2 separate regions of the Homo sapiens genome follow, and region 1 is linked to region 2. Evidence: fine-mapped expression QTL. A gene starts in region 2. The other region holds a variant in brackets. All regions are shown on one strand. Distances are from middle to middle.

The links. PIP is the estimated chance that this variant, and not a neighbour inherited with it, causes the effect.
Region 1: its variant is the best candidate, but not a certain one, in a credible set for the expression of PIP5K1B in whole blood (INTERVAL, PIP 0.81).

Annotation. Positions count from the first base shown.
Region 1 is chr9:68,667,813-68,679,679 of GRCh38, reverse strand. No RefSeq gene overlaps it. Among named protein-coding and RNA genes, the nearest start is that of PIP5K1B, 31 kb to the left of the region's middle. RefSeq lists an enhancer at 10,047-10,599. The variant G/T (reference allele first, on the strand shown) is at 5,825.
Region 2 is chr9:68,697,892-68,709,758 of GRCh38, reverse strand. PIP5K1B (phosphatidylinositol-4-phosphate 5-kinase type 1 beta) reads right to left here and starts at 4,519. Exons shown (of 16, transcript NM_003558.4): 1 at 3,997-4,519. RefSeq lists enhancers at 2,702-2,851, 3,302-3,391, 4,080-5,005 and a silencer at 4,142-4,661.

The DNA.
Region 1 (11,867 bases), 30 kb after region 2:
AGTAGCCAGAGTAGGCTCTAGCTTTAATGAATGAAGAACATAATTTTGTTTCTAATATAAAGTCATGGCTGGGTGCAGTGGCTCACACCAGTAATCCCAGCACTTTGGGAGGCTGAGGTGGGTGGATCACCTGAGGTCAGAAGTTCGAGACCAGCCTGGCCAACATGGTGAAACCCCCGTCTCTACTAAAAATACAAAAACTAGCCAGGTGTGGGGGCGGGCACCTGTAATCCCAGCTGCTTAGGAGGCTGAGGCAGAAGAATTGCTTGAACTCAGGAGGTGGCTGTTGTAGCGAGCTGAGATCATGCCATTGCACTCTAGCCTGGGTGAAAGAGTGAGACTCCATCTCAAAATAAGTAAATAAATAAAAATAAAAACAAAGTTAGAGAGATTAAATGTAGTTGAGGGATGGCATGAACATAGATATGCATAGCAATCATTATCCCTCGCAGCAAACTATTCTTAAATATTTTCCAAAATGTACTAGTATTTATATATTTGATTTTATCTAACCTCAGGTATGTATGTTTTCAGATTTTCATTTTGGGGGGAACACTGCTATACCGGGTGAAACTCATTAATAATACACAAGTCCAAGCACTTCAATTGTATTGAGGTTTCATTATGTTTCCTAAAAGAGAGGGAAAGAATGCATAAGCCAGATAATTGAATGAAGCCTTTGCTAGAGACTTATTTTGCAGCCATCTTCAACAATTCTTTGGTCCTCGTGGATGGGAATGTTTATCTATGTATTTGTGTAATATGTGGTCCCACAGAGTCCAAGCACCTGAAAAATCTAATTAGCCTGGTCTTGATTGACTGTGCATAGGATAATGCCATAGTCCTCAGTCTGCTCTTCGTCTCCTACAGCGTGCTTACTGATATGAAAATGAAGACACAGCAAGAGTTTCCATGAGCAGCTGCCAGACGGGCTTCTTGTGCTATCTTGTCCGTACAGAAAAATTGCCCATAAATAAGGGGGTCTGTCCACCAATCAGGGGCTGGGAAGTAGGCTGCACCCAAGGAGAAATCACAGCAGCAGGTTGTATGACTATAACGCAGTTACACCATTAGAGGCAGCATTTTGCAGCCCTTGCTGGGGACAGCCCACCAGCAAACAGCATTGCATGGTTAAGAACTACAGTGAAAACATCAGGAAGAGGAAATTTAAGACTTGTTTTGTTTTGTTTTACTATCATTTAGCAAAATGTTGCTGCCACATTTGGCACTGACCTTGAAAGTTTACAAAATCCACCCTATAAAATGGTCTAAACTACCTTTTGTGGGAGTGAGAAGAACGTGATTCGGACATTGATTAGCAAATCCAAGCAGAGGTGCTATTATCACGAAGCTAATAAAGCTTAAGTTTCCTGGCCCCTCGCTAGCATGAGCCCCTTCAAAGGCCTTGTATTTGTAATTTTGTGGTTTTCAGTTTGCATTCTGTATCTTAAAGAGGACCCCAGGAGTTGCAGAAACTTTAGTCCCATCAAATCTGGATCAGCCCATGGACTTCAGCCATAAGTTGTCCTGTGGCAGAGCCCCCTAATCGTTCCATAGGATCTATTCTCTTTCGTTAATTGAATGATCTAACCACCCACCCCACTCCAAGTTTTAGAAAGGCATGTCTGCCCATGTCTGTCTACATTTCTCAGCCTTTTTAGAGGCTAGGTGGGGCATGTGACCAGGACAAATTTGAGACAGGGTTTTGCTCTGTTTCCCAGGCTAGAGTGCAGTGGCACAATCTCAGCTCACTGCAGCCTCAACCTCCTGGGCACAAGTGATCCTCCTACTTCAGCCTTTTGAGAAGCTAGGGTTACAGGTGTGCACCACCAGACCTGGCAATTTTTTTTTTTTTTTTTTTTTTGTAGAGATGGGGGTCTCACTTTGTTGCCCAGGCTTGTCTTGAACTCCTGGCTTCAAGGCATCCTCCTGTCTCAACCTCCCAAAATGCTGGAATTACAGGCATGAGCCACTGCACCCGGCCACCAGGACATTTTTGTCAGATGAGAGCAGAAGTAACACGAGCAATTGCTGGGTTTTCCCTTTTGCAAGAGTGTGTGCTCCCCTTTTTTATTTCCCCTCTTTCTTTTGGCTGACAAAAGGCATTAGCTGGGAGCAGCCACGTTGGACCCAGAGACAGAAGCCATGTTCACGATATACTTCCCTCTGCACTATTACTTGAGAGAGATACAAGCTCATGTTTACTTAAGTCTCTGTACTTTGGGGGCCTTTCTTTGACAACAGCTCAGCCTGTGCTCTTCTCTCCCATTGGATTCACTGGGTCAGGGTTTACTTCAGAGGCAATGTGCAACGGAGAGAGTTGGCAGAGTACACCTGAGTCAAAGCCTTTGGAGGGTATTGAAGAGTCAGAAGCTGGAGAGACAGATATACAAGTAGTTAGGAATAGAATCATGATAAAGATTCCCTCTTATTCTCCTTTAATTGATAGCACTGTCATGAAGACAGCGATCCAGACTGAGAAAGAAATAGAAAATTTAGCTGAGATACAATGCAGGTTTTTCTGGCTGTCTCAGCTTTGTCTCTTCAAATATACAAGTGTTCAGAAATAGAATCATGATAAAGAAGGAATTCTGTATGGGTGTGGTGGCTCACACCTGTAATCCCAGAACTTTGGGAGGCTGAGGTGGGTGGATCACTTGAGGTCAGGAGTTCGAGGCCAGCCTGGCCAACATGTTGAAACTCCATCTCTACTAAAAATACAAAAATCAGCTGGGCGTGGTGGTGTGCACCTGTAGTCTCAGCTACTTGGGAGGCTGAGGCAAGAGAATCGCTTGAACTCAGGAGGCAGAGGTTGTAGTGAGCCAAGATCATGCCGCTACACTCCAGCCTGGGCTACGGGAGTGAAACTTTGTCTCAAAAAATAAATAAAAAATAAATAAAGAGAGGATTCAGTCAGGTAACTGGTGGGCTCAGGATCAGAAGGGGGGCAAGAGAGGTAGGTCCCAGAGCATTGGCTGTTGGTGCCCATGGCTTGACAGTGGGGCATGGGTATATTGGGCTGTGGTGTGAAGAAGAGTCCATGAGGAAAGCCGTGTAAGCCATCAGGCTTTGTGTCTCCTGACCTGCACCCCCAGCCTCAGCTGATGGAACCGAGGATGAGTGCTGCTCCTACGCTATGGCCTATAGGTTAGCCAGTCCTGCACCATTCCTCCCACCAGTATGTTCTACTCTGATAGGATTGACTATTGTGCTCATATCCTTTCTCATATGAAGTTTGAATGAGAGAGCTAGAAAGAGAGAGTGAAGAGTTGGCAGTGGGAGTAGAAACCAAAAGACATGAAGGAAGAAGACAGTAAGAAAACAATAAGACAAACTGACCCATCAAAAGAAGCAGGGAGAAGGGTCAGGAGAGGAAGCAGGTGGATGGAGGAACCGAGTCAGGACCATAGCTCACTTGCTTTTGAGATTCCAGAACTTTGGCTGCAGGTTTAAAGCCACTGCTCTACCCTCCACTTCATTAGTTCTTCGTGAGATTCTCTGGCTTTGCAGCTTCTGAAAAGATGTTTTTCCTTCTTTTTTGCCATGGATAGCCTTCAAATAAACCCCTTTAACTGAGATAAACTGTGCTGATTTGAAGAGTCAAAGCCGAGATAATCAGAAAAACTTGCATTTTATCTCCTCTAAATTTTCTATTTCTCTCTCAATCTGGATTCACTGACTTCATGACAGTGCTATCAATTAAAGAAGAATAAAAGGGAAGCCAGAGATATTTTCGGGACATGAAGGTCTGATGTTGAAGTTGAAAAAGTCAGGAAAGTGATGGAGTGTGTCCTTCGCTGCATATAATTTGTCCAGATGAACCTCGTAGCAGAATGACAAGATGTCATTGTTCATGTTTGCAGCAGATACAAATTTAGAAGAGTTTATGTGTATTTAGTCTCACTGCTGGAAGAGCTGTTAGAACATGACATGCTATTCTGGTTCCCTCCTGTGAATTCCTGCTATGCTAGAGGGAGGGGAAGAGGTTTTACATTGTGTTCCGAAGACATCTACTTTAAGGAGCTATTTTTCTGAAAAGGAAAGATGATAGCTTCAGTAATACCTGGCAGGCATCTGCAGAGCTCACAGCCATTTTTACCTTATCAGATTTGTCCTTCAACTCCTTGGAGAGAAAAATGAGTGAGCAGAAGAAGCATTCTGTCAATTTTAGAAAATAAGGCTCTCTAGCATTTCTGCCTGATCTCTCACTTTTCTGCTCAGCCCATCCTCATCTCCAGCTCCCTGCGCTGCTTTGACATCCCTGTTTGCGCTCTGGGACTACATGCCTCTGCACCTCCATCTCCAAGTATGAACATCCATTCCTCTGTCAGCCAAGACTTGACTTAAATTCCAGGTCCTTTTTGAATTGGGGTGGCTGGAGGCTCTTTCTCTAGCTACTGAATAGCATTGCCACGTACCAGATATGGCCTGGGAAGACATCTGAACACATACATATGTTCCCAACCAGGTGTTGGGCACTTAGAGCAGGAGTCAGCAAGCTATGGCCTGGGTGCCCAATCTAACCTACTCCCGATTTTTGTAAATGAATACAAAACTCATTTGGATGAATGAACATCTATTAGTATATAGCCACACCTATTTGTTTACATCTATAGCTGCTTTCATGCTTCAGCGGCACATTTGGGTACTTGTCTGCACACCTAAATTATGTACTTTCTGGTCTTTTAAACAATTTTGCTAATCCCTGACATAGAGGAAAGTGACCATGCCCAATCTAGCATCTGATACAATGAAAACACTCTGAAAATTCTTATGGAGGAAAGGGAGAAAAAAAAGAAGGAAGGAAGGAGGCTCAAGGAGATAAAATGAAATTACCCTCAAATCACATTTTGCACAATGAAATATTAGAACAGGATTCAAATCAGAATACACTCAGGACTGGCTATTTCCAGTAAGCAGGCAGGTGGAGGAGGAAGAATTAAAGGGATTGGAATAAAAGTGATTGTTCTAGTTCACTATTGCTGAGTTATCAACTACTCGGAAATGTAACAACCATTTTATTGTATCTCATGATTTTTGGGGTTAGACATTTGGTGGACAGGGTTTGATTGGGTGATCCTTCAGTCCCATGTAGTGTCAATGGAGATGACTTGGTGGTATTCAGCTGGCAGACAGGCTGGTTTTAAAGGTCCAGTTCAGCTGTACTATATGCCCGGTGCCTTGGTGGGTACGGTCGTAAGGCTGGGCTCAGCTGTGGCGTCTGGCTTCAGGATGGTCAGACTTCTTACATGAAGGTTCAGGGCTCCAGGAACAAGCAGTTCAACAAACAGGCAAAAGCTACATCACCTTTTTATGATCTAACTCCAGAAGTCACAAAAAGACACTTCCACCCTACTCTGCTGGTTGAAGTAGTCATGAGCCTGCTTAGATTCAAGGGGAGGGAACATAACCCCCAACTCTTAATGAGGAAAGATCAAATAATTTGTGGCCATGCTTAAACCACCCCAGGGGAAAGAAGATGGAATTGTTGGGGGCAAGTAACCAACATTTACTAAAGGTTTTAGTAGTTATTTCACTACAACCTTCTGAAAAAAGTATTATTCCCATTTGACAGCTTAAAAAATACATTTAAGATTAAATGACTTAATTAACTTACACAAAATGACTGAGCTGGTGAGTTACAGAGCTGTGATTTCAACTCAGGCATAACTCCAACTCTGGAACTTTTTCTATTATATCATGATGTCTGTCACAGAGAAATGAAGAAGAGTCAAGCATGGCAGACAGGGCAGTGATAAGGTTAAAAGGAAAAGCCCATGTCTTTGCCTTCCAGATCTTGGGAAATAATTGTTGGTGGCAGCAG[G/T]TGCCTGAGTGTCTTTCTGCAAAGACAGAATGCCCTGGTATAACAACAATAACAACACTTGCTGAAACCCCAGTCTGGAAAGTGCCAGACTGATCGCTTCTCCAATTCCTAGTCAGCTATGCCAGGCAGTCTCTGACCAGAGTCACCACACCTTTGACCACTCAAAAGGGTGATGCTGATAAACTACTCAACTATCTCCTATGCAGTAGGTGACTCTCACATCTTTGTCTTCAAACAGATCCTCTCACACGGGCAAGCTCCAGGCCCCAACTTCAAACTCCCTATAGGCCACATCCACTTCGATGTTCCCGAAGCTCAGACTCAACATGTCAGGACACACAGCATCATTTTCTCTTAGCACACTTCTGCTCCTCCTGCCCTCCTTGGTCTCCAGACCTGTGAATCCTCACCGATTGCTCCCTAACCTCCTCCTGAGGGGCAAGACAATATAGTCTGGTAGATTAGCACATGGGCTTTGGTACTGTGCTGCCTGGGTTTGAGTTCCTGTTGGCCTTAGTTATATGACTTCAGGCAAGTTATTCTATCTCGTTGAGTGTCTGTTTGAGATGATAGACTCTGAGATGGCAACAATAATAGTACCTCCTCAGAGCATTTTTAGAACTGAGCTAATATTTTGAAGTGTTTAAAATAGCTTGTGGCACATACTAGGCACGCAGTAAACATTAGCTATCATAATGCTCAATTAGTTTCCAAGTTCTAGTAGTTTTTTTTTTATATATTTAGGGTTGTTTTTCTTACTACCTTGACTATCTTAGCCCAACTCCTCATGACCTTATCCCCATGTAGTTGTGATTACTTTACAAGAGGGGAGACTCATGCCCTCACTTCTTCTCCATCAATCTGTGCTGCACATAGCTAGCTGAAAAATCTTCTCCATTTATTGGCTTCCTGTGTACTAGGCAATACACCAAGCATTTTAGAGATATTATCTATAACCTTTGCAACACCTCACTAAGCTGAGGACTCTATTATTCCTCCTATGACAGATAAGGACACTGGCCTCAGAGAAAATAACTTGTCCAAGGTCACACAGCTAGTAAGTGGCAGAGTCAAGATAAGAAACTTGTTGATGTTCTCTTATCACTCCATACTTCACTCTTCTATGACATCAGACTTCAATATTCAATATATCATCTCCCTGCTTAGGAACTTAAGTAAATAAATAAATAAGCAAATAAATCAATGACTTCAGGGAAGGAGAGCTAGAAACCTTCAAAAGTTTTTTATTATATATAGGATTTCATTTACCCTAATATTTAAGCACAGGACAATTTAGCCCCAAATTAATTTTCTAATTTAGGGCCTAATTTCTAACTGGGACTTCTCAGCCCAAACTCTCTATTCTAGTCTGTCTGACCTACTCATCACTCTACCACAGACCACAGTGCATTCCTGTCTCTGAGTCTTGGTGACATTCACCTAGCTGGATTGCTCTTCCCGCACTACTGCACATCCATCTAGCCAAATTATACCCAGGTCACACCTCAAACCCCACTTCCTCCATGGGCCAAAATAACAGATGCTGGTGAGGGTGTGTGGAAAAAAGAACTCTCATACATTGTTGATAGGAATGTAAATTAGTACAACCATTACAGAGAACCATATAGAGATTTCTCAAAAAAAAAAAAAAAAAAAAACCCTGAAAATAGAACTACCGTATGATTCAGCAATCCCACTACTGAGTATTTATGCAAAGGAAAAGAAATCAGTGTACCAAAGGGATACATGCACTCCCATGTTTATTCACAATAGCAAAGATATGGAATCAACTTGTATCCATCAGTGGATGAATGAATAAAGAAAATGTGGTTTATTTATGCAATGGAATACTATTTGTCCAAAAAAAGAATGAAATCATGTCATTTACAGCAACATAGATGGAACTGTAGGTCATTATATCAAGTTAAATAAGCCAGACACAGAAATAAATATTGCATGTACTCACTTATATGTGGGAGCTTAAAATATGGATCTCATGGAGGTGGAAAATCAAATGGTGGTGACAAGAGACTGGGAAGGATTTAGATGTGTAGATGAAGACAGATTGATTAATGGGTACAAACATACAGTTATACAGAAGGAATAAGCAGTAATATTCAATTGTAGAGTAAGGTGACTACAGTTAACAACAATGTATTGTAGCTAGAAGTGAGAACTTGAAATGTTCTCAACACATAGAAATGGTAAAGTTTATGGTGATGGATCTCCTAAACATCCTGAAGTAGAAGTACACATTCTACGCATGTGACACAATGTCACATGTACCCCATAAATATGTACAAAACCCAAACCAACAAACAAAAAAATAATCACAAAGGGCCTGAGATTTCATAATAGCTACTGGAAAGCTAACAATTTAGCCAGCCAAGTTTCATGGATGCTGGTAGAAGGCATAGAACTCCTGGGTCAGAGACAAAGGACAGTTTTTAACTCACAGCAATGGTAGTAGCCAGAGTAGCAGCATTTTTGGGCCAGTTCTTCAAGTCCTGATGCCCCTGGGGTAATGTGGAGAGGGTCAAGTGACACCAGCACACACAGTAAGCTGCACTATAAGGAGAGGAATAGAGAGAACTTAGGACAGCCTCATGTTTTATAATGGATGGTAAACACGCTTCCCTTTTACTATCTCTAAACTCCAATGCTTGATGCTTCCTAGAAAGACATTACCTCTCTCTCTCAATGTGTTTACTATACAAAAATCCTTGAAAAGTTAGCCAAGAACAAAGATAGTCCATGCCTCCGCTCACAAGATATATGGAAACAAGAATCCCATGAAGAATGGTCTTTTGACACTGACAACCCAGGCTACATTGATGTTGCCTTCCTCTGTGTTTCTAAAACAGTATTTGTCTAGCTTGAGTGATGTGCAAAGCACTTCTGAGAAAACAAATTCTCATAGGCCTCCTAGGGTTCTCTTAAGCACTTATATTGTAATGTTATTTAAGTACAAGTAAGCCTAGGTGTATTCTCATTGTGCTCGTAGCTCTTACATACTAGAAAAAAGGGCAAGGAGTATAAATGCAAACCAAAACAAGAAAAGCAATCAATTTCATATTTACAATATTAAATTATTTTTACAGAAATTATTGCTTGGCTAAAACTAAATTGTCGATGTAGGCTTTAGTACTAAAAAGAAAACAAGTCCATATCTACATTTACCCTGCTCTTGTTTTTTTATTTCAACAATATCAGTGTGAATAATGCCTATTTGCAAAATATTTTGTACAAAACAGTATTAATAACAATAAGCTTTTGTTTGCTAATTCAGGGTTATTATACCTTATAGTTAACCTAAGTTAAAAAGCAATTTTAAAATAAACAAAGAAAAAAAGAAAAAAGAAAACAAAACAAAAAAGCAATTCTAATGTTACACTGCTTTATAGACTCTGAAAAGTTACATTCTCTTAAAATTTCTTAGCTTTACTGAATTACCAAATGTGTACTAAATGTGTTTGTCTAATTTAGTTATTGGTGGCATCAGCATATCTGGGTTCTTTTTTTCCTTGCAGATGTCAAAAACAAATTTCTAGTTTTATTAAAGAGTTGATAAGAATATTGACAGAATCCTGTACATATCAGAAATAGAATTTTATGAATAATTTGATCTTCAGTCAAGTTTTCTTTCTATCGCAGTCACTTTGACTTTACCTAGGATATTTAAACTCCTGTGAAAGCTTTGCTCATCCAGAGGAGTCCCATGTCCTTTGGCCATTCATTGGCTGTAGCACCTCATTTACACTTCACATCCACTAGAACAGTCGCAGCCGTATGTTACTGCTTGACCACAGTATGTTAGTGTAAATGATGGCAAATCTAAAAGTCTCAAGTTATTGAATAACATGAGAGACTAAAATATTACTATAGAAATAGGTTTTGTGATGGCAAATCATCACCAGACAGGATTTTGATATGAGGAGAGAGGTGGGCACAGCCTTCTTCCTGACAATTTGACATTGGAACATAGCTATCCATAATAATAGTGCTCAGACACTAAAAGTCAGTAAAAGTCAAAATCTCTAATTTGTGGAAATTGCTTAACAATTATACATACATAAATGTCATATGCAGAACATACTTAAATCACTTTTTGATTATCCTAATCAGAAAAAAATAACATTAGAAAATTTTTGTTGAGAATTGAGGATCCCCAAGAGTCTGTCCGAAGGCCCGCAGGAGTTCATGGACAAAGTCTGAGAAACCTGTTGCCAGGAAGCATCTTTGCCAGTGGTATGCGCCACGGGTCTTTTCATTTCTTACTTCCTTCCTAGCTATTTTCCATCTCCAGATTTTATTGCTTTTCTGTCTCTTAGAACTGACCTCCAACTCTTCACACAACAAACACACTGACCTTTCTCTCTTCCCTCTCAGTCACTTCCTGCGGCTTTCTCAGCCTAATGCAGCCCTCTTCCTCATGAGTGGCCATTCTTTTGGCATCTACCCAGGAGGCTTAACAACAGCGACTGTTTTCCTCAACTGGAGAGACACTTAGGCACAAAGACATCAAGGGCTTTGCCTGAATTCACTCCTCGGGCCAGGGATCAGGCCCACCTCTTCACCTCCTTTTACATATTTACTCCGATAGGCGGGTCCCCGCAGTCACGATTACACACAGTGAGCACCAGACCCTGCAAAAAGATAGCACCAATGAGGAGGGTCACAGTTCCTGCTACAACAGCTTTTGTTGTTGTTGTTGTGTTTATTGAGATCAGTGGTTTTTAAACATTTTTTTTTTAACAACTGTGGTAAAATACACATAACTTAAATTTACCATCTTAACCATTTTGAAGTATGTAGTTCGTTGGTTTTAAGTACATTCACTTTCCTGTACAACTGTCACCACCATCCATCTCCACCATCCATCTCCAAAACTCTTTTCTTTTTATTTGCTTTTTTTTTTTTTTTTTTTGAGACAGGGTCTTCCTCTGTCTCCCAGGCTGGAGTGCAGTGGTGTGATCATGGCTCACTGCAGGCTCAGCCTCCTGGGCTCAAGAGATTCTCCCAACTCAGCCTCCCAAGCAGCTGGGACCACAGTCACCTGCCACCATCCCTGGTTAATTTTTAAAATCATTACTACTATCTGTAGAGATGGGGTCTCTCTATATTGCCCAGGCTGGTCTCAAACTCCTAGGTTCAAGTGATCTTCCCGCCTTGGCCTCCCAAAGTGCTGGGATTACAAATGTGAGCCACCGCGTCCGGTCCAGAACTCTTTTCATCTTGGAAAACTAAAACCCGCACCTGGTATACAACAACTTCCCATCCTTTCTCCTCCAAGTCCCTGACAAACACCATTCTACTTTCTGTCACTATGAATTTGTCTACTCTAGGCACTTCATATAAGTGGAATCACATATTTGTCTTTTGGGAACTGGCCCTTCCCCTTTGATATAAAATACAATGCACGCACAAACATCAGATTAGCCTGAGACCATGCTGGCCTTGGGAAAGGCCCTTGCTGTTCTGTACTCCCACACACAGGGCTGTTCTCTCTGCATACCTCTTCCCCCCACCTCTTGTCATGCAGACTTGTCAGCTAGTTGAAAGTTGACTCCATTCCTTTGGCCCCCCAGGTTGAGAGTGATTAGATTAGACCTGGAAGAAATAGCTGCTCTCACTGTGGAATAATGAGCAGTGGTTCTTACCCCCTTTTTTTTGGTTTTGGCTAAGAGCTTTTGAGGATCTAATGAAAGCTGTGTGCCCTCTTTCAGAAAATGGCACAGACATGAATACTTTCCCATGTAGCTTCAGGGGCTTGTATACCCTGATTTGATTTGGGTTCCCTCAAAAAGAAGACCCTGAGGTAAAGGATTTGGGAACAAGTCATTCATCTGGGAGGCAATCCCAGGGAACATGATGAGGCCTGAGACAGGAAAGGGAGGAAAGCCGGTGAAAGGTATGCTCATCAGCGGGTACCACTGTGGACAACAGAGGCCCGCTGGCTCTGGGGACCCTCCAAAACAACGTGCAGAACATACCTCAGAATCGTCCCACCGAGGGGTGAAGAAGCTAGGTGCTTATTCACCAA
Region 2 (11,867 bases):
TTTTATTTTTGCATAGATGGGGTCTTGCTATGTTGCCCAGGCTGGTCTCAAACTCCTGGGCTCAAGTGATTCGCCCACCTCGGCCTCCCATGGGATTACAGGTCTTTGGTTTCTATTTGAACAGTTTCCTCTCTCCCAGCACTGATTGGAGCAAAGTATTATTTCTGAGTCTGGTGATGCACATAAGCCAGAAGAATCATAGTGAATAGATAAAAACAAACATTTTGGCCGAGCACAGGGTCTCACACCTGTAATCCCAGCACTGTGGGAAGCCGATGCCTGTGGATTGCTTGAATCCACGAGTTACAGACCAGCCTAGGCAACATGGTGCAACCCTGTCTCTGCCAAAAATACAAAAATTAGCCAGGCATGGTAGTGCGTGCCTGTTGTTGCAGCTACTCAGGAAGTTGAGGTGGGAGGATTACCTGAGCCTGGGGAGGTTGAGGCTGGAGTTGGGCCACTGCACTCCAGCCTGGGAAACAGAATGAGACCTTGACTCAAAAAACAAAAAAAAAGTAAAGAGAAAAAAACATGTTATTTTTAATGGCATCTGCTTGGGCAAGAAAACTTAAACATATAAATGCTAAACCATTTTCAAATGTACTAACTCTCTAATAATGATAGTAAACAGAAGTTTTCTGTTAATCTCTATGATTTCTAAAAGTCAAAACTGTACCTTCACCATAGAACTCCTGGGACAAACTCAAATATGAACCTTCTTAAGAATTCCACATTGATCTTGGTCCTCCTGCTATCATCTTTGTGACCATAAGTAAGTCAATTCACCTAAGTTTTAGTTTTCTTACCCATAAACGGTACTTCTAAACTAATTAATATTTAAATTCTTTATCAGAAGGAAACATACATCAATCCCCAATGTAAATTGCAGATCCATTAATAATATTTAAGATCACTATATTCTTTCTTATCATTCTTCCAAACATAAAAACACTACTTGTCTGTATATAAAGAGGAGGAGTAGAAAGAGAAGATTGTTAAAAGGAACAGAAACTAGGTTGGTTTTGTTAACTAGGTTCCCCCTCTGAAACCACGAGACAGTATTAGCATCTCCTGAAATTTATTCAATACCCTGTTTTAAAAACAGAATGGTTGGTTTCCCCATGTCAAGACATACCCTTTCATAAAATGGGACAAGTCAATTTCTAGGAATGTATCTTTCAGCAGCTGTAATACTAACAACTAAAGGGGCGGGGGGGCGGCAAACAAAAGAGCATAACATAGATGACATGAGTCTACTGTCTAGGGAGAAAGAAAAGCTCTTCCCTATATGATGCCTTCAGAAAAGAGAGCAACAATGGGCTCTGTACCCGCCAGCTTCAGGAGGCACATGCCTGTAGGCAAATTATCTTATGTGTTGGGAATTTACATGGTAAGATGCTTTCTATGTTTTACAGCATATGTTTTCCTTATGAATGACTTCATTCACCCCCTTCATTAATTCAACAGCTATTTACTGAGCACTTACTTTATGCAAACCATAAAGCTAAAAAAAAAAAGTTATGAGCTTACAATTAGAATATTCAAGTAAGCCCTGACATGTACCTTACAGTACTTTAACCCCTCAGAATATTTTCAAGTCAAACAGTAAACTAAACAATATACTGTAGATGTTAAGCTAAAACGCACTTGTTAAGTTTCATTCCTTTGATGAAGTGGCATGTAGTAAAGGGGGGAAGGGATAAACTAAAGGTGAAAGAGTAATTAGCTAGGTCTCTTAGGTGATGTGGGGTACAAAGGTCTCCTTCCTCTAGAGAAAATGATAACATTGGATTACAAACACATTGGTAAACATCACAAAATGCTAAAGTTGGAAAGAAAAAACATAATTTCATACAAACGTTTTGTTTTATATGTGAGACACTTGAGACTTGGAAGTGATATGATGGCCCAGGTCATACGGCCAAATGTAGTCCCAGAACTAGAACCCAGGTCACTGGGGGCATGCTTAACAGTCCTTTGTGTATTGCAGTTTCCATGATGTGTCCTCATTGCTATCAGAACTGAAATGATGGCAGAATACACAAAGCAATGGACTGGACATCAGAAGATCCAAGTTCTAGTCTTGCAAATGCCACTAAATGAGATGTAAATCCATGGAAAACTCCCACTGCTTGTCTAAACCTCAGTTTCCTCATCTGTAAAATGTAAACAGTAATTTACAGTGAGACTATGCAGACCACAATAAATGCAGAAGAACTCTGCCATTTAAAAAACCACCTTATATAAGTACAGAGCAGGCACCTGGTTATGACAGAAAACCTAACTGTGATTCTAATACCAGCACTTGTTACCTTGATAAATCTCTGAATCTGTGAGCCTCATGTTCCTTCTGTGTTTACATGGTAAAAAGTCTTTGCCCTGCCTCCCTCAGAAATGTTTGGAATTAGGTGAGAACACTCAAAAGAATTTACAAATTGCAAGACACTGATGCAAATGTAAGGTGTTATTATTAAATCTCTCTAGTCTTAACGTGGACAAAAATGTAATGTGGTTCTATCATTTAGTGCTTCACAGTTTTCCTTCTCAGGTAAGATGTCATCATACATCAGTCTCAAACTCACCAGCTTTCTCATCAGTCCTCATAAGTCTCTGCCCACAGGACCATATCAGAACCACCGTTTCCCTCCGCTCAGAGATCACACATGAAACTCACTCAACCTCCCACTGGTTTACACTTGGCCGATTAAGGTTTTTTCCCAGCGTCTCCTTTCAGCTGGGAATGCTCTAGCAAAGCTTCCATGAACACTACCCTACTTCATCACATTAGAGTCCTAATGAAACCCATCCTTACTTCATCACATTAGAGTCCTAATGAAACCAATCCTTTCGCCTTTCTCCACTCCAACAGCTGCAGAACGCTTCAGTCTCTTCGCAGAACAGGGGAGAAGTCTCTGGCTGAATGTGCTTCATTAGAGGGACAAAAGGGGTTCCCCAAACCGAGACTCAGAAGTACTGACACAGAGACCGCTTCTTCCTTGCACGAGATTAACACATTCTGAGGTCCTACCGGTCCCTTAAGGATCATTCCCCTTAAAGCTAGGGCCTCCTGCATCTGAGAATGTCACAGAGAGGTAGTGATGATAGTGGGTGTTATTTCTGATCTGTAACACGCTCCCTTTAAAAAAGCATCAGAGTAACTAGGATTGCCTTGTTCGGAGCCCTGATTTCAGTAGATTCGATGAAAGAATTAATCAATCTACCCAAATAACTTCTCCGGAATAGGTTTCTACTCAGCCACGCTGGGCACCAGACAAGAGAGCTGGGGGTTGGGGGGGATAAGAAATGACAACACGCTCATCTGCATAGATGCCAGATAAGCAGACATTTGTTTTCTTCTGTTCTGGCGACTCCTGGCACCGGCATAGTAAATCAAACCCGGGCATTCTCCCTCCCCAGTGCCCCTACACTCCCAGCCCCTGCCCCAGATGTTGAAGCGTCACGTTGACCAGGCTGGGGGAGAAAGCCTGGGAAACGCAGAAGTCTGTTGCTGCATTTAGACTGGAACCATACCGCACCTGTTCAATCCGGCACCAGCGCCAGAAATGAGCAGAACACCAACTCGCAAGCCCCTCTTGAGATACCAGGGCGCCTAACAAGTTCACCGCTGTTTCGTACCGGGGGAGGGTGGTGGGAGACCTTTCCTTCCGCTGCCAAACTCTGCAGGTTCCCCGGAAAAGGGGAGAGTACTCCTATTTAAGTGAACCCAGAGTGATCTCCGAGTGTCACTGCGGCCCCGGGGATCCGGGTGACGAGCGGGTGGGTGTCCGTTGGGAGCGCGCAGCTGTGGCCCCCGCGGAACGAAGGTCCGCTTCGGTGGCCACGGGCGCCCTCTCCACGTCACCCCCAGCACAACGCAGACAGGCAAAGTGGAAGGGTAGAGAGACCGACGGGTTTCAGCAGAGATGCAGAGCCCCTAAGCGCAAGCCCCTCAGAAGGGTCTAGTGGGAAGGGGCCGGGGACGCACAGGAAACTTACCTCACCCGGGCAGCATTCGGGTGCCTCCGCTACCAAGACCAGTTGCGCCACAGTCTGCAAGTTATCGGGACGTTGTCGCTTCCCCACAGCGAAGGGAGAGCAGTGCAGGCGAGGGGCGGGAGGGGCGGGAGGGGCGGGAGGGCGGAGGGGGCGGCGGGCGGGGCCGGGGCCGGGGGCAACGCTGAGGGCGGGCAGGTGCCGGGGCTGGAGCCGCGGGGCCAAACTCGCTCCGGACGCGCCTTGGCGGGGGCGCGCGGCTACGAGTGTGCAGTGCGCGCGCGCCGCGGCGAGTGTGTGTGTCCCCGCTTTCCCCTTCCTTCCCCGCCGGTCCTCCGGCCAGACGGAGCAGCGAGCGGCCGCCAAAGCCCAGCAGCTCCGAGCGGCTCCACTGCCGGGCGCAGCCTCGCCGCGGCGCGTTCGGGGACCGGGAACCGGGGACCGAGAGGAGCAGCAGCGGCGCCCGCCGGGCTCGGGCGCGGGTTCCCGCTTGGTGCGCGCCGGAGTCGGAGCGAGGCGCAGAGAGAGCCGGCTGCGCGGCGGCTGCCGCGGCTGGGGAGGCTGCAGGCCCCGCCTGCCGGCCGCCCAGGCTCTTCCCCTTTTCTCTCCACCCACTTGCCCCATCCCCGCAAGCCCTGCAGCGAAGGCAGACCGGTTTGCAGCACCTGCCGCAACAGCGGCCGGAGCTTCAGCCGCAGTGGGCTGGGCGTCTCAGCCGGTGTGTGGGGACCGGGCGCCTGTCCCGCCGCCGCTGGCCCAGACTGAGAGCGGGGTTGGGGTGGGCCCCTGGAATTGGCGGGTGCCTCCAAGACTCCAGGGGTTCCCGGCCGTTCTCAGCGTCTTGAAGCCCTGCGAAACAGGGCTGTGGGGATAGGGCGTCCCCTTTCCCCAGGCCACAGAACTCAGCTACGCCTGGTCGCCCGCCTGCTAGACTCTGCCTGAGGCGGCGAAGCCGGCACTTGAGCGCAGGCGCCCCCTTCACGAGGAAGGGACAGGCCAGGATTCCAAGGCGTTGGTTGCTCCCATTCTAAGGACAGCAGGTGTTCCCAGCAAGTAAGACCTACCCAACAGGTAGGGGTAGGCTGGCGAGGAGGTCCTAGGAGAGAGAAGCTGGGGGATGTCATGGGAAAGCGCTGTGACGGGGCTGAGGGCCAATTCCTACTGATAGCGCTTAGTGGGCTGGGGGCACTTGCAACGTCACCTGATGTCAGTCTAGCTGCGAAGAGGGTAGGGGTCAGATCTAAAGGACTCCTTTGGGAAAATGCTATCATGAAAGCTAAAGCTAAATTCACTTAATAGGAACCAAAAGGTAGCGGATCCTTCGCGGCTGAATTGAAGCAAATGGTATTTTTCAGCCTCATCACTTCCTTCCACTTACCCTTCTTTACCAAAAACAACGCCGGTGGAAAACGTGGGATACATTCTGTCTGGGGAATAACAACATTTCATGATCCTTATCTTCAGAGATCTCTGGCTTCCAGTTTCTGTTTGAAGGATACTCCCTTAGTTCTCTGCAAATGAACACCTCTTTTCAGTTTTGTAATCTCTTTGTTTCTCTCACCCCCCACCTTGAGTGAGTCTGCTATGGTTTAATATCAGCCTTGAATCAAGTGCAATAATTTCTTGATAACAGAAGTATCTATTTTTTTTTAGCTTTACTGAGCCATAATTGACAAATAAAACAAATATCTGTTATTCTTCAGCTGTTTTCCCAGCCTGCTTCTTGCAGATGTGGCTGGCCATTACTGAGAGATTTAAGGTATGGTTTGTTTAGAACCCTGTGACTTGGGTCTGGTTTTCTCCTGGCATCCTAGACGCTTCACAGCTCAGAGCAGGAGGAACATACATCTAGTCCAGCCCTCCCGCTTTACAGATGAGGAAACTAAGGTCTCAAGACATTAAGTAACCCAAGGACCAGAACACAGTTTCCCTGACTCTCAATCCCTGAACAATAACTAGCAGAAATATTGTATTAACAAAGTTCAAGATGGGGTGGATAGACCAGTGGTGGAGGACAGAAGAACCGATCAAAGAACCGTTCATCTGACTGGTACGAATCACTGTATAGGGGGCAGCATCATACCGCTGTAACTAGCAGGCTAGTTTGGAATCTGGGAATGGTAATCCCAGTCTCTCCTTTTCCTGCTTCTCAGACTTCAGCTATGAAATCCAGAGTGGAAAATGAATTTGCCTCCCAGGGAGGCGGTGGTAAGTGAAAGTGCAAAGTCAGTTTCTGGTAATGCAGGGGAGATGAAGACAGGTAAAGCCAAACATTGGATCAAAAGTGATCACGCATTACGTATAAATGTCCAAATACATGTATCCATACACATGACCCTTTTCCCATTAATGAGCCTGGTATTGAGCCACTTCTGTAAAGCCCAAAAGCAAACAGCCTTAGGTTTTCAGAGAGAAGTGTCCAACCAGACTGCCCACTGGCTATTTAGAGAGCTAACTTTATGAAGCAGGATTCTAAGGAACTCTACCAAGAGCCTTACGATTGCATTATTACTGTGAATTGATTAATGGAATGAATGACCATGTAGTATGAGACCTGGTATTTCTTCCTGATTCTATCTCCAACTCTATCAACAGGGATTTAGGAAAGTCATCCTGTATTGGAAATAATACAACAACATCAATATCATGAGCAATAGTGACTTGGCCAGAAATTCTGGAAACCTATTTAAAAATCAGAAAATATTCATCTAATTATTTTGCTTAATTTTAAATGTAATTTTTTCAATTGATTCCTGACCTCAGTCCAAAACTTTAATAATGCTATTGAATACTCCTCTAACTATGAGAAACATGCATGGGTTCCTAGTAGTACATTTGATAGTATTAGTGGCCCCCCAATAAATGACCTCCTTTTTTCTCCAAGGTCTTTCCCTCTAACCTTGTAGTCCACTCCTATTCTGGGCCCAACCGTATGATTTACTTTGACCAACAAGACAGTAGCCGGCTTGATGTAAATGAACGCTGGAAAAATGTTTACACATTTCTGTTTCCAGTCTTGGAATTCTGACATCACCAGAATAAGCCTGCTGGAAGATGAAAGACCCTGTAGAGCAGAGCTGAGTCATAACAGCTGAGGCATCCTTGACCAGTCAGCCCTCACTTGACTGTGGAGGCACAAGCAAGTCTGAATGAGATTGGCTAGGCTTGGTCCAGATCACCAGAACCACCCTCCCAACTCATAGATTCATGAGAAACAATAAATGGTTGCTGTTTAAAGCCACTGTTTCAGATATTGATTGCTGCTTAACAAACAATCCCAAAACTTAGTTGCCAAAATCATCAGTCATTTACTATTTTTCATGATTCAGTGGGTCAACTAAGCCTAGCTGAGTATTGCCTAAGGTCACTCATGGTTTTTTTGTTTGTTTTTGTTGTTGTTGTTGTTTGTTTGCTTGCTTTTGAGACAGGGTCTTGCTGTGTCACACAGGCTGGAACAGGCTGGAGTGCAATGGCATGATTACAGTTTACTGCAGCCTTGATCTCCTGGACTCAAGCAATCCTCCCACCTCCGCCTCCCAAGTAGCTGGGACCACAGGCATGCACCCCAACGCCTAGCTAATTGTTTTTATTTTTTTGTGTGGAGATAAGGTCTCACTGTGTTGCCCAGGATGGTCTCAAACTCCTAGCTCAAGCAACCTTCCAACCTCAACCCCTAAAGTGCTGGTATTACAGGTATGAGCCACTGTGCCTGGCCTAGGTCACTCATTTGACGGCATTCAACTGGCCACTGGCAGCCGGACTGAATTGGAAGGTTCAAGAAGGCCTCATTCACATATCAGGCACCTCAGTTCTCCTCCACATGACCTCTCTCTGTCCATCCAGCTGGCTTGGGCTTCCTCCCAGCAAGGTGGTTAGACTTCTTCTATGGCATCTTGCTTCCAAGAGGGAGGAATAGAAACTGCCAATTCTCTTAAGGGTTGAGTTTGGAAGTTCTAGAATGTTATTTCTGCTTCAGTCTATTGGTCAAAGCAAGTCACAAGGCCAGTCAGATTCAAGAGGAGGGGAAATAGACTCTGCCTTCTGACTTGAGGGGTACTGTGTTATGTTCAGGAATAAAAGAGCTGATAGCAGCCATTTTTTGAAGACTACTTCATCCACTACGTGTTTGGGTGCTTTGTGACACCACATCAGATCATCGATATATTCTTCTTAGCTACGCCACTTTGAACCAGTTACACATTCTTTCTGGACCTTTCTATGAAATGCCGGAGGTTGCATTTCTCTAAGTTGCTAATGCACATTTAGCATTTTTTTTTTTTTTTGGTGATGTCTCAAGAGCAACTGAAGTCCAATAAATATTCAGAGGGAACTTGAGGAACATTGGTGAGCTATGGATAGTTCCACCTGTTCATCTGTCCTTTATTTTTTTTCCAATGAGAAAAAAACAGGAATCCAGATGAAAGGCATGCATTGCATTCGTTGACATTGAAGAGTAGAGAAGTAGAGCCAGCATCCTTCCCAAATCTCTAGGGACCATCCTCCTGCCACATTGCCCTCTCTTTCTAGAAACTTCATGTCTAAGCAGACAAGAAAGGCTAAACGCTTAGCTGATGCCCCTGTATAACTTGAGACACTAATTTCAGAGGACCAGTTTACCCTGGGAACCTTACATTCAAGCAAAGGCTTGACAACCTCATATGCATCGCCTTCCTTTTCTTCTTAATTCCCTGTACCCTCTTCTCTTTCATCCAGCTTTGCTTTCTTTTTTGCTGCCTTTTTTCTTTCTTTCTTTCTTAATCCTATCCATCCCCTTGTTCCTCTTTCCTCTCAGGATTGGAAAGAGCATTGAATTAGGAGCCGTAAGACCTGGTTTGTCACTCCAGCTCTGTCCCCACAACAGTGAAATCTGCATTCTTTCTTGGTGGCAGATTCCTTGTCTGCACCATGAGAGAGTTAGACAAGATGCTCTGAAAAGTCCCTTACATGCCTAACATGCCAAAGGAATGTTCCTTCTGCAATACATTTAGTGCCAAGGCTTGGAGGAGTTTGCATATTAAAGACTCAGAACCCTTTAGAAGAGGTGCACTTGTATCTTAAGCCTTCATGAGTGATTTACAATACCTCTCAGTACTTTTTTCTTGAGTTTTTAAAAGCTAGAATATATGCAAATCTACCAGACACATGTCCTATTTAACTTACTGTTCTTTGCCCAGAGGTTGGTATTATCTAGCTCTTCTCAAAACTCATTGATGTTTACATTCAGCTAAGAACAATAAGAAAACTGGAGGCCCAGTGTTAGCAGGCATACAGGTCTGACCCTGGAAAAGTTCTCCAAAATACCTGGTGACCCATCTAGGAAGCAGGAAGAAGAGCTAAGCAATGTGCGCCTAAAATTTCATAGCAAAAACATAAAATTATATATATGGAGATTATAATTATGTAAAAAATAATGCACATGAACGATAAATACCTGGAAAAGAACAATGTTTAAAGTTCTCATGTTAGGGTGGGAGAATTCTTTTTTTTTGTAATATTTTTGTCAATATTATTTATTTTTCATCCTCAGTAACCGACTCAATAGCTGTATGAAGGTAACAGATAAGCTTGATCTAGAGAGCACATGTGAAGTTTTTGTTTTTTGTTTATACTTTAAGTTCTAGGGTATATGTGCACAACATGCAGGTTTGTTACATATGTATATATGTGCCATGTTGGTGTGCTGCACCCATTAACTCGTCATTTACATTAGGTATATCTCCTAATGCTATCCTTCCCCCCTCCCCCCACCCCACGACAGGCCCCCATGTGTGATGTTCCCCTTCCTGTGTCCAAGTGTTCTCATTGTTCAGTTCCTACCTGTGAGTGAGAACATGTGGTGTTTGGTTTTCTGTCCTTGAGATAGTTTGCTGAGAATGATGGTTTCATTCCTACAAAGGATGGTTTCATGTCCTACAAAGGACATGAACTCATCCTTTTTTATGGCTGCATAGTATACCAGGGTGGGAGAATTCTAAGGTTTAAAAAAATTGATGTTATATTGTTTCTAACATTAAAAATATATATACACCATTAAGAATACCAGTCTAATTTCCACCAGCCTGTATAATCTATTTTCTTTTGAATTCAGTTACTCCTTTTCTCTTTAACATTTTTTCTCGTTACAAACTGACCCACATACATACTTTTTTTAAGGTGAGTTTTCACTTTGCCCACAAGTTACAAAAACAACATGAACCAAATAATGATTGATTCGAGGAGTGAACAAGAAGCAAGAGAATATCAGAATGGAGGAGAGAAAGGACAAAAAATAGAGAATTGCCGGGATAGCATAGAGAATCAAGCTGCATTTCAGAAAGATTCTTAAAGCATGCAAAATTTATACACACATTTTCTATATCAAGTCTGAACCTGGGTTTTAAGGAAGTTGAAAGTCATGGCCTTGATAAGGGAGAGAGAACCGTCGCGCCACCCACCCCCACCCTGCCCCGCTTTTTGGTTGGAGAGGCCAGTTTTAAAGCTTGAGGTAGAGGAAAGAGGCAGAAGTGAGTCAGCAGTGTTCCTCAACACACACCAAAATAATTATTGCAATCATTATACCATGAGTATCGAAACAACTTTCCTAAGGTCACAGAAATTATCTCTGGAACCAGGAGTCAAACCCTAGGCTGCCATTTTATCCCCAGAGCAGGAAGTGATCAGCAGAATATGCCCAGGGGTCTTCATGATTGAGCATAGATTTTTCATGCTCAACCCTTCTTTGTTATAACATGCAAAGTAGTTTGTTTTCTACCTACTCAAAACATTTTTAAAAAATCCTCATCAATTATGAAACATTTGACATCAAATTAGTCCAAATAAAAGGGTGACTGGTCTAGGAAGAATACCAAGAAATGATGGTATTTCAGCTCCTGGGATGGCTGCAAAAGAAGGAAAGGTAATGAATTCAACAAAGTCACTCAAACTTCCTAAGTAGAGGCAGTAGCTGTCTGCCCAAGACATAGCTGACACCTTCCTGGGGCCATTTCAGGGAGGGCTCAGTTGCTTACAGTGGACGAGGCAGATCCTACCCTGTGTGGAGGGAAACTTCCAGGGCAAAGACTCAGACTTTCTCAGCTTTGTTTTGTGAAGGAAGGTAGCATGTGTGACACTGATGACACCACAAACACTTGTTGAACAGACATGCATGTTAACGTTAGTCAACCAGTGAAGTCCACGCTCAGACGCTCAAGCCCTCTGTGACACTGTGCCATGTGAATACACTGGGAAGACACATTGATTTTCACTTTTATTTCTCAAAACATTTAGTGACTCTCCTGACTTGGAACCATTTAGGTGGAACCTTACTAGCAAGACTGTCTCCTCCTGACAATATTTGAATTTGAATGTTTTGCTAGCAAAATGGAGCTTCCTGTTCTGACACCCCTTATAAGATGTTGTCAGCAAGCTGTCACAGCAACCTAAAATATTTGGCTGGGATGGGAGAAAAGCAAAAGGAGCTGTGTTAATCAGGGTATGCAAACGGATTTCACATACAACCCGCAAGCCTCAGTGGATTAGTATAATAAAGATTCATTTCTTGTTCATGTCAACATTCAGTGTGATTTGGTGGTGGGGCTGGTTTTGTGCAATCAGCCAGAGACCCTGGCTCCTCCTGTCTCATGGCGCCATTATCTTCAACAAGTGGCCTCTGAAATCCTTCCTGAACTGCAAGACAGAATGAAAGATTTAGAATGCCAGGTGGAGGAGTGGCAATCATCACGTCCACTCACATTCCACTGGCCAGAAATTGATCCCACAGCCCCACCTACTTGCAAGGGGTCTGGAAAACTCCATGTAAGCGCTGTGCCTGGGAAGAAGAGAAGAGCCTGGACACTGGGGAGCACTATATTCTCAGCCCCATGCACTGAATTAAA